3 separate regions of the Homo sapiens genome follow, and all the other regions are linked to region 3. Evidence: fine-mapped expression QTL. A gene starts in region 3. Each other region holds a variant in brackets. All regions are shown on one strand. Distances are between the middles of the regions. Region 1 overlaps ANXA5 (annexin A5). Region 2 holds the start of LOC105377402 (a long non-coding RNA gene). Region 3 holds the start of ANXA5 (annexin A5).

The links. PIP is the estimated chance that this variant, and not a neighbour inherited with it, causes the effect. A credible set is the group of variants that fine-mapping cannot tell apart.
Region 1: its variant is the best candidate, but not a certain one, in a credible set for the expression of ANXA5 in whole blood (TOPMed, PIP 0.74).
Region 2: its variant is the best candidate, but not a certain one, in a credible set for the expression of ANXA5 in skeletal muscle (GTEx, PIP 0.83).

What each region holds. Positions count from the first base shown.
Region 1 is chr4:121,672,632-121,678,771 of GRCh38, reverse strand. ANXA5 (annexin A5) reads left to right here. Exons shown (of 13, transcript NM_001154.4): 7 at 278-357; 8 at 822-878. Among named protein-coding and RNA genes, the nearest start is that of ANXA5, 21 kb to the left of the region's middle. The variant T/A (reference allele first, on the strand shown) is at 3,587.
Region 2 is chr4:121,645,201-121,651,340 of GRCh38, reverse strand. It overlaps LOC105377402 (a long non-coding RNA gene), which reads left to right and starts at 690. Exons shown (of 3, transcript XR_939167.3): 1 at 690-703; 2 at 1,705-1,750. The variant G/T (reference allele first, on the strand shown) is at 3,516.
Region 3 is chr4:121,693,104-121,699,243 of GRCh38, reverse strand. ANXA5 (annexin A5) reads left to right here and starts at 2,264. Exons shown (of 13, transcript NM_001154.4): 1 at 2,264-2,381; 2 at 2,620-2,663. The coding sequence starts at 2,655. RefSeq lists a silencer at 1,896-2,315.

The DNA.
Region 1 (6,140 bases), 20 kb after region 3:
ATCTATAGATTAATGACTACATTGGTCGAGAGAATTTCTAAATGGCTGAGTCTTGATTTAAGTTTGAATTGAGTGCCTTTGGGAGACTTTAATTCATTTTTGTCCAACCACTCACTGAAAGCATTTGCTTAGAGCATTCAGAGATGGAATAGAGGGAATTTATGTTAACCAAATATAATTATTTCTTCTTTTACATCGCTTTCATTTGATTAATGGGGCAAGATTACTTTTCTAGTTGAAAGAAGATGTAAATAAGTATGAAATTATTTTGTTGCAGAATATGGCTCAAGCCTGGAAGATGACGTGGTGGGGGACACTTCAGGGTACTACCAGCGGATGTTGGTGGTTCTCCTTCAGGTATTGCGTGGAGATTAATTACAGTTTGATTAAAAAGCCTGAAGTTGGACTGGGCTGAATCTAGTTAAGTAAGGTCACTTAAAATTCTTTTAATAATTTGTGGTACTTGCTGATTCTTACTGCGATGATTCTGACTGTATGTTGCCTGTGCTTGTTTGTGTTTCAGAATATCTGGTCTAAATTCTTAACAGCTAACTCATACATGTTTTAGATAGTAGTATCTTGTTCCTTTCATAGAATGATAGCGGTATCTTGTTCTTTCATAGAATTTAAAATCAGTAGGGTCATTATTGGTTTTGGACAGTGCTGGGTGATGATAACGTGAAATAGTGCAGGATTGATCTTAATAAAAGCATATTATTCCTAGAGAAAGAGTGTTATTGAATAACCATCAGGTGGAACCATTTTTCCTTTTGAATGAGAATGCTCTATAGTTCAGTAATGTGACATATTACCTCTCATAGGCTAACAGAGACCCTGATGCTGGAATTGATGAAGCTCAAGTTGAACAAGATGCTCAGGTGAGTGACACCAGGATATGATGACTTTATTATGCTGTAGAAATGAAGAAATAATTCATGGTAATGAAAAATCACAATGTATGTTGTAATAGCTTCTAGTGATAATCTTGTTAATGGGTTATTTACATAGCATAAGACCTACATAAGTAGCTTTTTCTTATTCTGACCTGGTCAGCAAAATATTTTACCTTAAAGCTGAAACGAAATAAAATAAATTATATAGTGAGTTCCAACTAGACATGTTTTTTTTTGTGATTATTGAACATTCACAAAATAGAGAATTTTACCAAAAAACAGTGTTATTACTTCCACTGCCAATTATGCAGTGGGTCTCTTAGCAGGAGAAGATAAAGAAGAAAGAATAAAGTATTTAACAGTAAGTGGTGTTTAATTACATAAGAGATGACAAGTTATTTTGGTATTAGGAAATTTCTCTGCATTTCCTTCGACAGAATTTTAAGTAGGATTGGTCTTCTGTCAGCAGCTTTTTAGTGACTCCAAATGAAAATTTCCTCTTAAGTGACTTATAAACCCCTATAAAGTCTCAGTCTGGTTAATAAAACAGTTATTAAAATATAGGAAAGGAAATTTGAAACATGAGAGCTGAAAACTGGAAATTGGTAATAAAGGAATTACTTGGGTTCCTAGAACCACCAATCATAGACCTCTTTCTGGTCACATGTTTCAATTAAGAGAATATACAATTCTTGGTTGTTTGTCATGTATCATTGAAAAAGGAAGAGCCATATTCATTCCTCCAGTGGAACAACCCATGGATATGCGATCTCACTTTGCTAACAGGAAAGAGGAGAGCGGTTATTCTTTTGGGTAGGTTGATTTTATAATGGTTTCAGAATGCTGTCATCTCTGTCTAGCTGGAGAGAAAAAAAGAACTGAATGTTTACCGAGGGCTCTCTGTGCAGTATTTGACTCTTGCTTCACTCTGTCTTAGAAAATGCAAGCCAATTGTGTCCAGCCCCTTCAGACTCTGGTGGTTCCATTGCCCTCAGGATAAAGTCCGGGTTCCTGAATGGGTTACAAGCCCCTTTGTTATCTGTGTGTTGTTTACTTATGCCTCCAGCCTCTCTCACATGCTCTCTCTGCCCTCTTGCCCCTCCCACCCCGCTTCACCTGAGTCCTCTTCAAGAGTCAGTCTTCAGCTTAGATACTTTAGAGTTAGGTGCCCCTCACAGGGAAAACCATACCCCCCCCCGCCCCCAGGCTTCCTGTCACAGTTCTTGCCACGTTCTCTGGAAGCCATCTATTTACTTCACTGCCTTCCTGGGCCCCCTGAGCTGTCAGTTCAATTGTATCCTCAGCTTCTGGCATAGAGTAGGTGCTCAGTAAATAACTGATGAATGAATGAGCACATAACTCTACCAGAAAGGGGCAATTTCCCTTTTATGGATAAAGAAACAAACCCATGGCTTCCACTGAATAGCAGTGGAGTTGGAATTCCTAACGAGGCCTGTCTGACTCCAAAGCTCTTTCTCTTTCACTAGAAGATAGTCAGTGTTATTGAATATTAATATTTCACTATAAGAATATTTCACTGTAAGATATTCAGTGTTCTTGAGTATTAGTGCCTTCCCTGATTTTCTCTATCATTAAAGGGCTTATTAAATATCAACTCAAGCATAGATCTAGCTTAATTCCACCTTCTTTCGGGAAGAGGGCTAGAGCAACCCTACAGAGTTGTACTCCTGTTAGGGGCTTTGTTCAGTACTGAGGTGATCTTACTGCTTTCCAAGCATTGGTTGTGGCTTTGCTAGGAGATAGTGCTGATTCTCTCATTCCTACTGTCAAGAGTAGGATAGGAGTTCTGGGAGCTTTTCAGGGTCACAGTGTAAGAAACCAACTCTAGTCCTCTCAGATGTCTGCAGTGAGGCCTGCATTCACAGGCAGAGGGCAGATTTCCCAGCATAGTTGGTGATGTAATGAGAGCATTGCTGCAGCACGAGGCTCCTGAGGGGAAAACAGTACATTTTAACCTTGTTTTCATTGATTTCTGTCCTTGGAGCACTTACTGGATAGCACTGCTGCTCAAACTTTCATGGGCATGTGGCGCACCTGGGACCTTTAATTGCAGATTCTGATTCTATGGGTCTGGGCAGGGGCTGGGAGTCTGGATTTTGAACATGCTCTCAGGTAATGCCTGCATTCTTGGTCCTTTGATTACTGAGGCTGTATAGGTGACACTTACGTGTCATGCAGTGGATATAACCATTCAGAACCCTGAGAGTACATGTGAGACTGTACATGTGAAAACTGCTTTATGGAGTTACTTTAAAGTATCCCTTGAATGGAATCCAAGCTTTTCTTAGCCTTCCAGTGACTAGGAGCAATACAGAACATGTTACACTGGCTATTATTTTTGATTCTTTCAAATGTATTATTATTAATTAATAAACCTGTTGAAAACAAATAATCTTTTGGCATTATAAAAAGGAACACACCAACTTGTACCTCGTAGCAAGGGCAGCTGGACTGTTATCACTAGTGAGAATTTGAGATTTCTTAATTGAGAGTAAGCTGAGACAGCTAAAGGGCTCTTTTATAAGCTTTTGCATTTTTGTCTCTACTGATACCTGGCACTAAGAAGATTTCTATTATTTGAGAGGTTTGATAAGCCATAGTGAGTCATTCACTTGGGAACTGAACGTTTTGTAGATAATCCACTTTTTAACATTTTTAATGTGTTAAATTGA[T/A]TTAATACTTTTAATGCATTAAAACAGATTTACCTTCTTCCCCAGTAAATCCTTGTTTTATTCTTTCTCTGGAGGGAGAGTTGAACTCTTAGAGGAAAGAGGGAGAAGGAGAAGTAATCAGGCACTTTTTACTTTTACTGGGCATTTGCTACTGATTACCTGACACTGTTCAGTGCATTATCTTAGTTATATAATCTCCGTTAATGACTATATACACTGAGGCTGAAGAGGAGATTAAGTAGTTCATCTGAGATCTTGCAGATAGACCACATCTGTTTTGACTCCAAAGACTCATCCTTTGCACTGAACCAGGGCTTATGAAACTGTACTCAGGCTGAACCGTAAAGCTTAGGGAAGGGGTGTAAGGGTCCCTCATCCAGATGGATCCATGAATATTGGGCATCCTCATTTAGGAGAAAGGATACTTAGATTAAAACAAAACTGTTAAATATCATTGTTTTACATGAAGAAGCCATCATTATTATTGCATATGATTACTTAATAATAGTTTTACAGTAGATATTGATCCCAAACATAATTCTCCCAAGAAAATTAAAACATTGTGGTAAAAATAACTGACATCTCACCAATTATTCCCATATAACAGGCTTAACTCCTGTACCTACTAGAGAACATTTCTAGACATTTAAAACAGTTGATAAGAAGTGTGTGCATCAATGTCTGTGATATTGTACAAGATGAGTCCTTTACCCATTTAGGTGTTAATGTATTTGTATATTTTATCTACATGTAGAAACATACCAGAAGTAGTAACTAGCACCCTCAGGAAATTGATATTAAATAGCAACTTTTCTTTTCTTTCCTTTCTCTTTCCCCTTTCTCCTTTTTCCTTTTCTTTCCTTCACCTTTCCTTCCCCTCCCATTTCCTTACCCTCCCCTTTCCTTCCCCTCCCTTCTCCTTCCTATCCCCTCTCCCTCCCCTCCCCTCTCCCTCCCCTCCCTTCTCCTTTCCGCCCCTCTCCCTCCCCTCCCCTCCCCTCCCTCTTCCCCTTTCCTTTCCTTCGTGCCCAGGCTGGAGTGCAGTGCCATGATCTAGGCTCACTGCAACCTCTGCCTCCTGGGTTCAAACAATTCTCTTGCCACAGCCTCCCGGGTAGCTGGGATTACAGGCATCTGCCACCGTGCCTGGATAAGTTTTGTATTTTTAGTAGAGACAGGTTTTGACAGGTTGCCCAGGCTGGTCTTGAACTCCTGGGCTCAAGCGATCCACCTGCCTCAGCGTCCCAAAATGCTGGGATTACAGGCATGAGCCACTATGCCTAGCCTGCAACTTCTATTTTCTTATTTTTGTTCTTTCTTAGTTTTATAAAATTTCTCAATGAACTTGCGTTGTTTTTGTAATTAAATTTTAAAAGTTATTTTAAGAAAGGTCTGTGTCATCATGATATAGTTCTAAAGTTTAGATGCATGCATGACTTTCAGAGTTACTGTCTTTTCAGGTTTTAAGAGCATGTTCACATGGCCAGAATTGATATTATTCATTTTTATCTTTAAAATAATTAATTTTAAAATTGAGCATAAAGATACATGAGTCTCATTTTTTTCTTATTCTCCAGAAATATAATAAAAAATAGATCTTTACCACCATAATCTACATTTTTAAATATACTGTGATCAAAACTTCTATATTCAAGCCTGTTATTATCACTTCCTGTCTTTATTTGGATTGCTGCTTGTGGGTATAAGGCCAACTGCAAGTAGCAGCCTCAGCAAATTGCATTCATCTTGCTTTAATATGTAGACTTAGTTTGAAATGAATAAAAGGATAGTACAGTCATTGTAAAGGTTGATTCTTTGGGTTTTAATAAATTATTCTCACGTCAATAAGTGGATTCAGAGTTAACGTTGATGTTTGTATATAAGCTTATTTTTTTAGGCAGCTATACGTGCACAAGAAAGCATATTTTTTCCCCATGTCAAAAAGGAAGTATGGGCACTCAAACTATTCAACCACTACTTATTGAGTGCTTCTATATGCCAGGCACTGTGCTATACCCACAATCTTTTAAAAATTTATTGTGATCTTTGGAAATATGAAAACATTTTATAGCTAGCCTTGGTTAAATCTCAGTTGTAAAGAGAAAATATGAAGTGTACTTTTACTCATGTGCTATTGAACAGCTATAGAACAAGCAAAACAGAAAAGGCAGACAACTTAGCTTCCAGTTAAATCCTTTCCCAGTCTATACATGGATGTATCAACAGTGAGGTAGTCATAACTTTCTCCTGACCCATACTGTTGCTTCTGAAAGATTGGAGGTTATGGCAGACATTTTGGGAACATGTAACCTTGCACCATTGCCGTGCTTTGTTGCTTGGACCCATGAATCTTCTGTGGCACAGTTCAGTGGCAAGCTCCAAAGGTGCTCCAAACTCAGTGAGCTGAGTTTCAGAGTAGGACACATTAGAAATGAAAACTATTAATACAAGATGATGAATCAAGTGAGTTAAAATTCAGGGAGTAAAAAACAAGTGTGTTTAAGAACCTGGAAATGAGATGGAGGAACAATTTATTAATTGAGTTTGAAATTTT
Region 2 (6,140 bases), 48 kb after region 3:
TCAAGCATATGTATTGGAGAGAGAGGTAATAGGAGGAATTTTGTTGATGAGGTAAAGAAATAGATTCATGTAACTTTAAAAATATATTTCTTTATCTTTCTAACTAAGATAATGGGTACATTTATCATCAAGCAGAGCACAATGTTTTGCAGACATAAACCAAAAACTCCACAGAAGACTAAGGCCATGGTATTTTCATTTCTCCTTCTTTAAAACAAAAAACCTAAGCAAACAATGATTATAACAGCTAGAGCCACGTAGAATTTTAGAGTTCATAAGAACTTCAAGAAATTACAGATAATCACTGCTACTGAGGATCATCTCTTTTTGTGGAGAAGAGTAATCTCTGCTTAAGAGCTTAAAGTAATTTCAGTCTAATGGAGCAGCCTCCCCTGTGGGCCTCCTAAATACCTTGCCAGACTGGGCTGGACTGGATTACCTACATTAAGTGTAAACTTATGTCAGGAAGACAAAAGGGAAAAAAGGGGGAGAAAACGAAGAGATGTTGATTCAGCTTCAATAAACTTTCATATAAATTTATATCTAAAAATTTAGAACAAAATTATTTCCTTTTTTTTGAGACAGGGTCTTACTTTGTTACCCAGACTGGAGTGCAGGGGTCCAATCACGGCTCACCACAGCCTTGACCTCCCAGGCTCAAGTGATCCTCTTGCCTCAGCCTCCCGAGTAGCTTGGACTACAGGTGTGTACCATCACGCTCAGCTAATTTTTGTATTTTTTGTAGAGACGAGGTTGCCCAGGCTGGCCTCGAATTCCTAGGCTCAAGTGATCCCCCAGTCTTGACCTCCCAAAGTGCTAGGATCACAGGCATGAGCCACCACGGCTGGCCTGAATGAAATGGTTTTTCTTACTGTGTAGTTAAGCTTGTATCATTTCAAAATATTAAATTGTGTTTTTCAGTACATATTGGCTGGGAATGCCCACCAAAATCTTTTTAGTGTTTAGGGTGTTAAAGGTCTATATCTACCCTGGGGAAGTGCAGATCAGGGTTTTGGTTGGAGGATCCTGGATGGCGGGATGCATCTGAGTTAGGTGGGTCTTAGGGAAAGGGATGCTGGAATGGGAAACCCCAGGGTTCAGTAGGGGGATGTGGATGGGGTGTTCTGGCAATCATTATGCTAATATGGGTGCTATACAGAAATACCTAATATATCTCACTAGAGTACTGATAAAGAGTATGGCTCTCAAGCCAGACCAACTGAGTTAGAATCCCTTCTCTACCAATTACCAGCTCTATGACTGAGCAGTTTACTTGATTTCTCTGATGTTTTCCTCATGTATAAAATGAAGATAATATTGTTGCACTTCATTGAGAACTAACATGAGTTAATAATTGTGAAGGCACACCTGGACAGAGGAAATGCTCAAGCATGGACATTTTTATATCCCCAGCTTCCAGTGCTATGGCTGGCATGTAGAAAGCATGTGACAAACATTTGCTGAATAATAAATGTGGGACTGCCTGTGAGATGAATGAAGCAGACCATTCCTGAGTAGTTAATGAATGATGCTGAGAAGATCCTGATTCTAGTGGCTCTTTATTAAAATATAATCTTAAGTAAAATGACTAGTTTTATGTTATCAATGTGTATTGCTAGGTTCTGTTTTTATATATGTGAAAGCATCATTATTATTACTTTCTTGTTTTTTCTTTTGTTGTTGCTGCTGCTGAATCCTCACCAGGAAGGAATTAAGATCTCGTTTCCTCACTGAAATCCAGAAAGAAAAGGTTGGTGTTGTGTTCCCTTAGGTTTGAGCCGTGAGAAGCGTCTCTGGTTCATGAGTTTTGGGTGGTAGGAGTGGAAGTAGGATGAGGGGATTATGTAGTATTACCCCTGAGCAGGAAGGCAGGCTTTGAGTAGAGAAGGTGAGGTAGAGCCCTAAGGTTGAGATGGCAGGGAGAGTACAGAGGGGCCCTTTCTGTGGGATTGGTTTGTATTCCAGTCCCAGTTCCCATGAAGTACCCTGGAAGATGGCAAGGTCTTTGATGTGGTCACTGATTTGGGCAGTAGGGACTGAGGAATGGGAGTGTTCTGGAGCTGCTCCTTCAAGTGAATCATCTAAACTTGTATCTTTTCAGAGAGCAAAGATGAACTGGTTACCTTAGAAGCCCTTTATATATATATATAACGAGATTGTGTAAGCTCCACCAATTTCTTTTGTGATATCGAGGAAGGGGGGGTGACTCACAAAGCATGATAAAGTTTGGGGAAATATTTTATTAATATGAAAGATGAGGAATTTAGATTCTGACATGATGTGATTTTTAAAAAGAGATAATAGCATGAAATGTCTTCATCTTAGTGTTGTGGGGCAAATTTGAAGCATCTGTAGTGTACAGTTTAGCAGCTAATTAGCTGAAGCTAATTAAAAGGAAGATACCTAAAATTAATTTTTGATGATAGACATTGCTCTGTAAATTTGGAGCTTTAAGGTGTGTATTCACAGATTATTTTCTCTTTAGGAACAGGATTGCTAAATTTGTGTAGGTTATTATTGAGGCACAGGCAGCCTAAAACATGCCATAGTGATTTGAACAGTCCACTGTAGTGACTTGCTGTGTGGTTCACTTAAGAGGCAGCTCTACAACATTCCCCATCCCCTATTGCTTTCCATCAGCCACTGCGTCAAAGGCCTTGCCACATTCCAGGCACCTCATGGGACTTGGAAACGGGATGCAGGCCCAAAATCATCGAGAAGGAATCTCTCTACTGCCCTTCTATGGCCCCACCTCACTTTCCTCTACTCAAAACATGTAAATACATGGCCTTGATATTTAAAATATGAAAAAATTTATTATGACATTAGCTAAATATAAATGACTAAGTTTCAATTTCTATATTTATAAGAGATATAAGTTAGAGATGAGAAGATGTAGGCCCCATTACATATGTAAAAAAAAAAAGATCCTGTGTGCATTCAATGATTGATTGTTGAATGAATGCACCATAGTCCCTATGTGTTTTATACAGCCTCTGTATATAAAACACTTACAGCAAGCATGAGATAGTGTGATGAGCATGGCCTTTGCCATCAGAGGAACTCAGATTTAAATTCTGACTCTTCCCTCTTGGGCAAATCACTTGTCTTTAATTGGGAAAATCACTTATTTTCAAGATGGTACTAATAAGAACTTCTGCATAAAATTGCTATAATGATTAAACAGGGAAACATAAGTAACACATCTAACAAAGCACCTAGAATATAGTAATTATTCAATAAATATTTTGTGATAGTTAAGATAAACAATTCCAGCTGCTGTTAATATCTAAATCCAGAATTCTCAGACACTTAACCTTATCAAATCTATTCCTCACTCATTTCAGTGTGAGTATTTCTGGATGGGAGGAATTTTATGTGATCATTTAGGGAATTTCATGTAATCATTTAGGGACTAAGTCTCCTTTCTTTTTATGGCTCTGTCCTCTATGTCCTTAGAATTTTCTCCATTTAGCCTATAGATGGAGAAAGTAGGGTGATGTATGGGAAGTTTT[G/T]TTGGCATGCACCACTTCTCCCCATTTTCCATTAGCTAGAACTCTGTTATAGACACAAATGTAAGGGAGACTAGTTAATGTAATTTTGTTGTGTGCTTAGAAGAGAACGTGTGTTTGGTGAGCGTCTAGTTAGTTTCGGCCACAGTTTTATTCTCCTTCCTCTTCTATTTTTCTCTTTAAAAATCCAGGGATATTTTTATTTATTATTGTTGAATGCTTTTTCTTTTTGAAGGTCTAATTCATCTAGAATTTCTTATACATAAAAAGTCCTTTTTTGGTACCTGACCAAGTAGTGATCAAGGTTTGTATCAAAACCCTTGAAGGAGATGAGAGAGGGGAGGAGAGAGAGGGAACAACATGCAAGCATATTTAGTGCTTGTAAGGATGAGGTGAAATAGGCACTCTCATTTCTTCCTCATGAAAGAATAAATGAGTCCAACCCTTCTGCAGGGAAATTTGATTTAAAATATTTATACTGCTTGACATGGTAATTCTAGTTTTTGGAAATGACCTAAGGAAATGCTTTGAAATGCAGATATAAATCTGTGTAAAAAATGTTCACTATAACATTATTCATAGTAACAAATAATTGAAGACAATCTAAATGAAAACCCTAGGGAAATGGTTAAATAAATTATAGTATGTACACATAATGAAGTGTTATACAGCTGTTAGAGATAATCTTTAGGAATAGAATTTAACAACACAAAAACGCTTATGCTAAAATGTTAAGTGATGAAAATAGAATATACAGTTTTAAAGACAGTGTAATTCTACCATGGACAGAAAATATTCAAGAAAAATATTGGATATAACCCATGTCTATATCTAGAGTAGAATGGATAAATTAAATTATTACATATCATTTAATGGAATATTCAGCAATGAAATAAACTCCAGCTCCACCAAATAATGTGAATAAATCTTGCATATACATTGTTGAGTGAAAAAAGAATCAAGATATAAAATACATATATTATGATTTAATTTATATAAACTTTAAAGAAGAGACAAAATTAAAATAATAATTTTAGTAACACATGCTTATTTGATAAAATTATAATGAAAAACAAACAAGTAACTAGTAAATCTTTAGCAAGTCTAAGAATTTCCATGAGATTTTTGAAAACCTTTAAGGAGAAACATATAAATAAAACATGGAATTTTCTGCTACTCAAGCAGGTGTGGGGTGAGAGCATCAGTGTTTGGAGTACTAATGTAAAGGTGACCTCATTTGTTCATGCAGCCTGGTAAAACCTGGAACACACAGTTCCACAATCTACTGGTTTATAGTCTTTGGTAGCAAGTAGCAGAAATAAACTCAGGTACTTTGTATAAAAAAGAAATTGATCGTGAGTATATTGGATATATCACTTGGTTTTATTTAACCCCAAAGTAAACAAAAACACAATTACATCTGGCTTAAATAATATGGACCTTCATTATCTCAAGTAACAAGAAGCCCAGAGGTCCCAGAGTTGGCTAATTCAGTAGCTCAATCAGAGACTCAGGTACCTTTTGTCTAGCTGTTCTCTCTAACCACAGCCTGTTGGCGAGTCTCTCCTTGTGGCTTTAAGATGCCTCTAGGTGTTCCAGGAATCATGTGCAGATATGACGATATCCAGATAAGGGGGGAAGGGGATGATAAAAAGCTTGGGTGATACAAAGTTGACTTTATCCCAAGCTCTGTAGCGTACCTGTGCATAAACCAATCAGTGGTAAGGAGAATGAGACTCTTCATACCTGGCTTTAACTTCACTGCCTTGGGTCTGGGAAGGGGCCCAGTGACTCCTAGACAAATGACCAATTAGGGCTTCTGTTATCAAGGAAGAGGTAGGGAAGAAAATGACTGTTGGATGAACAACCAACACTGATTCATCTCAAAGAATTAGGGGAAATAACAACTAAATCTTGAGTATGATGGAAAACAGCTGAGTATATTTTGGGAACTTAGCAGCAGGAATACATGAATTTTTCATCCCTTATGTGTTGCCATTACTATAACTCCATTCCAACAATTCCCTGTCTCTGTCTTTCAGTTCAAAATTTCAAATATTGGAAATGACAGTATTTGAGTGGTCCAGCTTGTGTTAGCTGACCATTCCTGCATCAATAAGCTATAGCTGTGCAGTAAAGTTACTAAGAACAGTCATGGCTGTTGGATACCCACCTCCATAGGTAGCCATCAAAGAGGTGTTTACTGTATTCACCTTCCTGATTATCTGGTGAAGAGGAAGGTGAGAAGGGTATCCATTTCATGTTTTAATAATTATCTTATTTTTGTTTAGACTTCATTATCCCCATATTCTGGTAATTTCATCTTTGACACTGTATTTGACACAAAGAAAGTGTCCTTGACACAAAGAAAGAAACTTGTTTAAGGTAGGTAAACTAGTTTAACTATCTTAAAAGAAACTAATAGTAACCATGAGTTCTGACCAATACACATCTTGTGTTTCATTCTGTCAATGCATAAGAAAATAAAGTATGAAATAGTTGTGATACCAAACATATGGATGAAAGTCCTAGTAAGAAGCACCACCATACCTGGATAATTTTGGTATTTTTAGTAGATACAGGGTTTCACCATGTTGCCCAGGCTGGTCTCAAACTCCTGGCCTTAAG
Region 3 (6,140 bases):
TCATTTCCATTCCCTAGCCTTTATTTTCTTTATACCACGCATCACACAGGACATATTAGATACTTGTTTATTGTTTGTTTCCTCCACCAGAATGTATGACCTATGAGGGCAAGGCCTTTGTTTCACTTGCCGTGTTTACCCCAGCACCTAGATCTGTGCCTGGTCCAGAGTAGGAGTTGAATAAACTGATATTACTGGAAGTGAAAGAAATGCTACCTGGAGTATTTCAAGACTCTGAGTCCAATAACTCATCGATTTTGTCAGTATTTAGCTGCAGGACATAGAGCAAGTCACTAACCCATGATGAGTCTCATGTCCCTGTAAAATCAATGATTGTTAAATACAGGATCTCTGAGGTCCTGTTTAACTCCATTAATGTGAGAGTAGAAAGTGAGAGAAGCAAACTGAGTTCAAGTGGATATGGGTGAGAAAAAAGAATGCTCTAGGCAAGACTACAGGTCCTGCTTTTGGTGCAGGGCAGAGAGAAAGTAGAAAAGCTGGAGCAACGGAGACAGATGCTCAGAAAAGGGCTGCCTTCAGATATATTAATACCTGTAAAGAAAACCCGGGGGAGGTGCTGACTTGGGGAGAGCCTGAGGCTGAGTAGACAGCTGGGCTGGTGGAGAGGAGGCTCCCAGAGGAAAGGCAACCCGCCAGTGGGGTGGGGGTGATGGGGTTGGCAAGCTCCACAAATTTTGCAATTTTGCCTCCTTTCCCAGAGAACAACCACTCTGTTGTGACTTTGTCAGGGCTGGAATAGGCATGTGGTTCACACGTGAAAGCGAATGAGAAGTTCTATACAAAGAACCACATTTGCTGTCCATTTAATTTATTCTTCCTCATTCTCAAAGAAGACTAGATCCTCATCTCTTACCCTTAACCTCCACGTTGAGAAGCACTTTGCCCTTCCCATTCTAGCATATGTCTAGAACACTGCATCTAGTGTCGCAAACTTGTCCTCTTGCCCCCTCTGCCCTGGCACCTTCCCTCCCCACACCAGTAAGTCTGAGAAGGTCCCTGTGTCTTCTACTTTTCCTTTTCCAGCATATGGAGACAAAAGTGATTATATCCCGGATGCTAATCCGCCATGTTGACCTTTAATAACCCCAGTCCCATGAATACCTCCTGATTCCTAGGATTTTTTTTTTAAACTGTCCTTAGCATAAGAACATGTCAACCTTGATGCTATTGCCCACATTGTAGGCTATGAAGCATACGGCATTCTCACCTGTTCCGGAGGGCTGCCTTTAATTGTCTTGCACAGAGCAGTATACTCTTTCCTTACGGTATATAAGGCCAGGGTCTGGGGAGTAACAGTGCAGAAATTTATCTGCTTGCCGCCGCCCAAGGCCACGCTTCTGTCTACCACATCCTCCAATAGCACCCCTATTACCTACAGACTGGATTTGTCTGTCTCGTTCTTTGGTTTCTTGACTCCTTCGCGTTTGGGGGCTGCTTTGCATATAAAGCCCTTTCACAGAACACAGCACCATGCTAGTACAATACGCTGTAGATTCTCCCTCCCTCCCCCTCTCTCTCATATACTCATATATTTTATGTTGAACCAATATGAGGCATTGCTCAAATTTAAGTCATATTAAAGTTCTAGGCTAGTTTTGAAAACAGAAACTGATTGGAAGCAGAGGTTTTCAAATAGCCCACATACGCTACTAGAAGGCTGTACATTTAAGAGAGGGCCATCTAGGAAGCAATAATAGGCATTAAAACAACAACAAAACAACAAAACAAAACAGAAACAAAAACAACTTGGGAAACGGCCCTCCTTTCACGTTTTTTCTATCCCATCGACAAAGGCGCGCTGTCCTTAGCTGCGATGATTTTGTCTCGCCTCCAAAAAGACGCCCACGCACTATGTTGAGCACCCAAGTGAGGCTACGGTTCCTGCGGTCACAGAGGGCAGGGAGGCTCAAGCACCTCCAAAACCCCGAGCCCTGGACAGCTCCCCAGGCCCTTCCCGCGGCGCGAGGACAAGAGGTCTCCGGGGCCCTCGGGGGAGCGGCGCCTCCTCCTGGTTCCAGCAGCTCTGCGGCCGCTCCCCACCCAGGCCCGCGAGACCAGCGGGACAGTCCGCGCCGCGGGAGACCAACTGGGACGAGCCGCGACCCACGCAGGCGCGCTGAGGCCGGGGCAGGGGCGGGCCCGGCTGGCGCGGCCGGCCTGCGGTTGGGGCCCTGGCGGGGGTGGGACGGGCCAAGCCGGGCAGGGCCGGGGTGGGGCCGCTGGCGTTTCCGTTGCTTGGATCAGTCTAGGTGCAGCTGCCGGATCCTTCAGCGTCTGCATCTCGGCGTCGCCCCGCGTACCGTCGCCCGGCTCTCCGCCGCTCTCCCGGGGTTTCGGGGCACTTGGGTCCCACAGTCTGGGTGAGTGGTCGCAGCCCGGGGAGGGGGCTCCTTCTGGAGAGGAGAGCGTGGTCGCGGGGCACTGGATTCGCGCGGACGCTCGGCCGAGAGCTGTCCCGGTAGCTGCGAGAGGGCGGGTCGGCCCCGTGGCGGGGCCCTCCGGGCTGTCTGAGCGCCGCCGGGTCCCCGCGGACCTGCGCTTGGGGAGGGCACGAGTTGCAAATGGCGCGCTAAGCCCGAGGTTTCTTCTCTTTTGCAGTCCTGCTTCACCTTCCCCTGACCTGAGTAGTCGCCATGGCACAGGTAAGGCCGTGCGCCCCCCACTGCGCTGGATTTACCCACAACTTTGTATGCTGCGACGAGGGACTTTTAGGATTTGTCTGAGAGCCAAAAAGTTTAGGAGGAAAGGGAACCTGCTTTGGGGACATCGCTTCCACTTTTCTTGTTCCCCCTTTGCTTCCCTGCCCCCGTTTCTGTGTCCCGGTTCTTCCCGCTGAGCGCCCTCCGGAACCAGCACCGACGCCGCCAAGCTGCCTTCGCGCGCAACAGCTGGTGACGTGGCCGGATTTGTGTGCGCTCCCTTTTCATGAGTGAATGTGTAAAAGTGGGCCTTCCCCAAAATCCAGAGAGTAGCTCAAATTAGAACCGGAGCAAGAACAGCTCATCGTGGTCATGTGAGGCGAACGCATTCCCCCCCCACCCCGCCCCCCGACTTCCTTTATTTTTTTTCCGCAAAGTTTTCTGTATTTTAATACTGTGATTGAGCATTGGCTTTTTCCAGTTGCTCAGCCCAGTTTTACTAAAACTGTAGGACGTAGGCTCTGATTTTTTTTTTAATCCAAAAGATTAAACACAAGCGCTGTTTTTCTTAAGCAATGAACTCGTGGAACGAGTTCTCAATTGAATTTGCCTTGGGACTGTTTCAGAAATTGATAATCTACTACAGGCTTTCTTTACTGTTTTTTTTTTTTCCTTTTTTTTTGAGACGGAGTCTCACTCTGTCGCCCAGGCTGGAGTCCAGTGACGTAGTGATCTCGCTCACTACAACCTCTGCCTCCCGGGTTCAAGCAATTCTCGTGTCTCAGCTTTCCAAGTAGCTGGGATTACAGGCGCCCCACCATGCCCAGCTAATTTTGTATTTTTAGTAGAGGCGGGGTTTCACCATGTTGGCCAGGCTGGTCTCAAACTCCTTGCCTCAAGTGATCCTCCCGCCTCGGCCTCAGGACTGTAATCCCACTGCGCCTGGTTTCTTTACTGTTATTAATGTTTATCAAAAATGTAGGAAAGAGAAGATAGTTTAAGGTCTTTAAATATTGACCATGTTATACAGTCTTTTGTGAATAAGATACCAGGGCTTAAAAACTCTAAAACTGATTTCACAGATCTTGTCAATCTAACCGGCTTGTCAGAGTCCAGATAGTTTTTTTTAAACAAGTGTTTTAACTGCTAAAACAATGCTGTCTCTTATTTATAGTTCACTTTTTATCAGATTGACTTATCAAAATTGAAAAAGGTTTCTTGGTCCTTTCCAAGTGAAAATGGGAGGATTAAGATTAGTTGATTACTTTATGAAACTTACACAGTGATCCCATTCTTACCTCCTCTTTTGCACTTAAATGTTACAGTAAACCAATTCTCATATTACTTCAAGTGGAAAGTTTGGTTTAAGTTCTTCTCCATAGAAAGGATACTTTTATGTGGAATTAACTTTCCTGAGTAATATTTTTCCTATCTTGATATGCTGGTGTGGTGATGTACATGAAGATTTAACAAGCATCGAATAATAATTCCCTCTATCTTTGCTCATTTAGCAGTTTCTTGAATCTCTTGTAAGTTCCCCAGTGATGTCTGAGGGTCCATCAATTCCTTTTCATTATGTAGACTGTTTACCCAAATAGTATAAGCGAACATATTTTCCAGTTGTGGACATTAATTTTAATAATTTCAAAGAATGATTAGTATCATAAAGGCCATGTGTATAGAAAACCTAGGAGAATGGTGGTTTGCATATAAAATTATGTACCTGAGCCCTATGACAATATAACACCAAGACTGTTTTCTATCAAAACTACAGTTTTTACTAATCATAAAAGTTACAAGTAATGTTTTAAAAAAGATACAGAGTGTTAAATTTTGTTCTAGTTTTGTTACTATTTTTGGAAATCATGAAAGTAAAACATTTTGTTAAAATATTTAGTATTGGCCAGGCATGGTGGCTCATGCCTGTAATCCTAGCACTTTGGGAGGCTGAGGCACGTGGATCACGAGGTCAGGAGTTCGAGACCAGCCTAACCAACATGGTGAGACCTCGTCTCTTCTAAAAATACAAAAATTAGCTGGGCATGGTGGTGCACAACTGTAATCCCAGCTACTCGGGAGGCTGAGGCAGGAGAATCACTTGAACCCGGGAGGCGGAGGTTGCAGTGAGCTGAGATCGCGCTGCTGCACTCCAGCCTGGGCAACAGTGAGACTACGTCTCAAAAAAAAAGTTTAGTATTAAAGTTGGGTGCGGCGTCTGAGCAGTAAGAATGTCATGAAGGCAAAACTAGGCTACGTAATTGTTCATTAGAAGCTTCATGAACATCAGAATTTTTTTGTTTATTTTTTATTTATTTTTTATTATATATATATTTTTATTATACTTTAAGTTCTAGGGTATGTGTGCACAACATGCAGGTTTGTTACATATGTATACATGGTGCCATGTTGGTGTGCTGCACCCATTAACTCAATATTTACATTAGCTGTATCTCCTAATGCTATCCCTCCCCCCTCCCCCCCGCCCACAATAGGCCCCGGTGTGGGTGTGTGATGTTCCCCTTTCTGTGTCCAAGTGTTCTCATGAACATCAGAATTATCTCTATGGTATATGTTTAAGTTACAAGGTTTGATCAGAAATATTTTCGGTTGGTTTAAAATTATTATAATAATTTAAAAAAGCCCTGTGCCGAGCAAGCAGGATAAATGTAAATAAATAAATTTGAGATGAAACTCCTTCCAGAGGAGCTGACTGGATATTGATTGCATCTTTTCATGCCATTCATTTTTTAAAGTCAAGTCTCTCTGGAGCTAATGTTCACTTTTGGGATCTTAGATCAGGGTTACCTGTTTACCCGTGGCCTGTGCTGCTCCTGGTGATTTCTCTTGGTTCCTTATCTGTTTAACTCTTAAGTTCATTTTGGCTGCTGAGAAAGAACTAGATCAAAAACTACTTGGCTGCTTTGCAAGCCACTGAGCAATTCATTGGCATTCAGCAAACCCTGATTTCCTTATCTAATATCCAGTTCTCCTTGGAAGGCCTACATAGGTGATCAGGCTAGTTACAGGCAGGCAGTCCGGCTTTCTTCTTTTAATGACTTAGAAGTTCAAAATGGTAAAAATATAACAGTGCTTTTACAGCATAGATTCATTCCTGAAATACATTTTATTCATATAACCTTCATACTATTCTAAAATTTCACAAATGCATCTGTTTTTTAAAAATTAGGGCTCCTAAGACCTTTGCTTTAAGTGCTTCTTAGACGCAGTCTTTCAGTTTAGTTAGTTTACATAATATGTAAACATATCATCAATTGATTAATTGCAAGGAATTATACTCCTGGCTTCATTTCTTTGGACACTAGTTTTTTGGGTTTTTTTTTTTCTCCCCCGAGATGGAGTCTCGCTTTGTTGTCCAGGCTGGAGTGCCGTGGCGTGATCTCAGCTCACTGCAACCTCTGCTTCCTGGGTTCAACTGATTCTCTTCCCTCAGCCTCCGGAGTAGCTGGGATTAGAGGCATG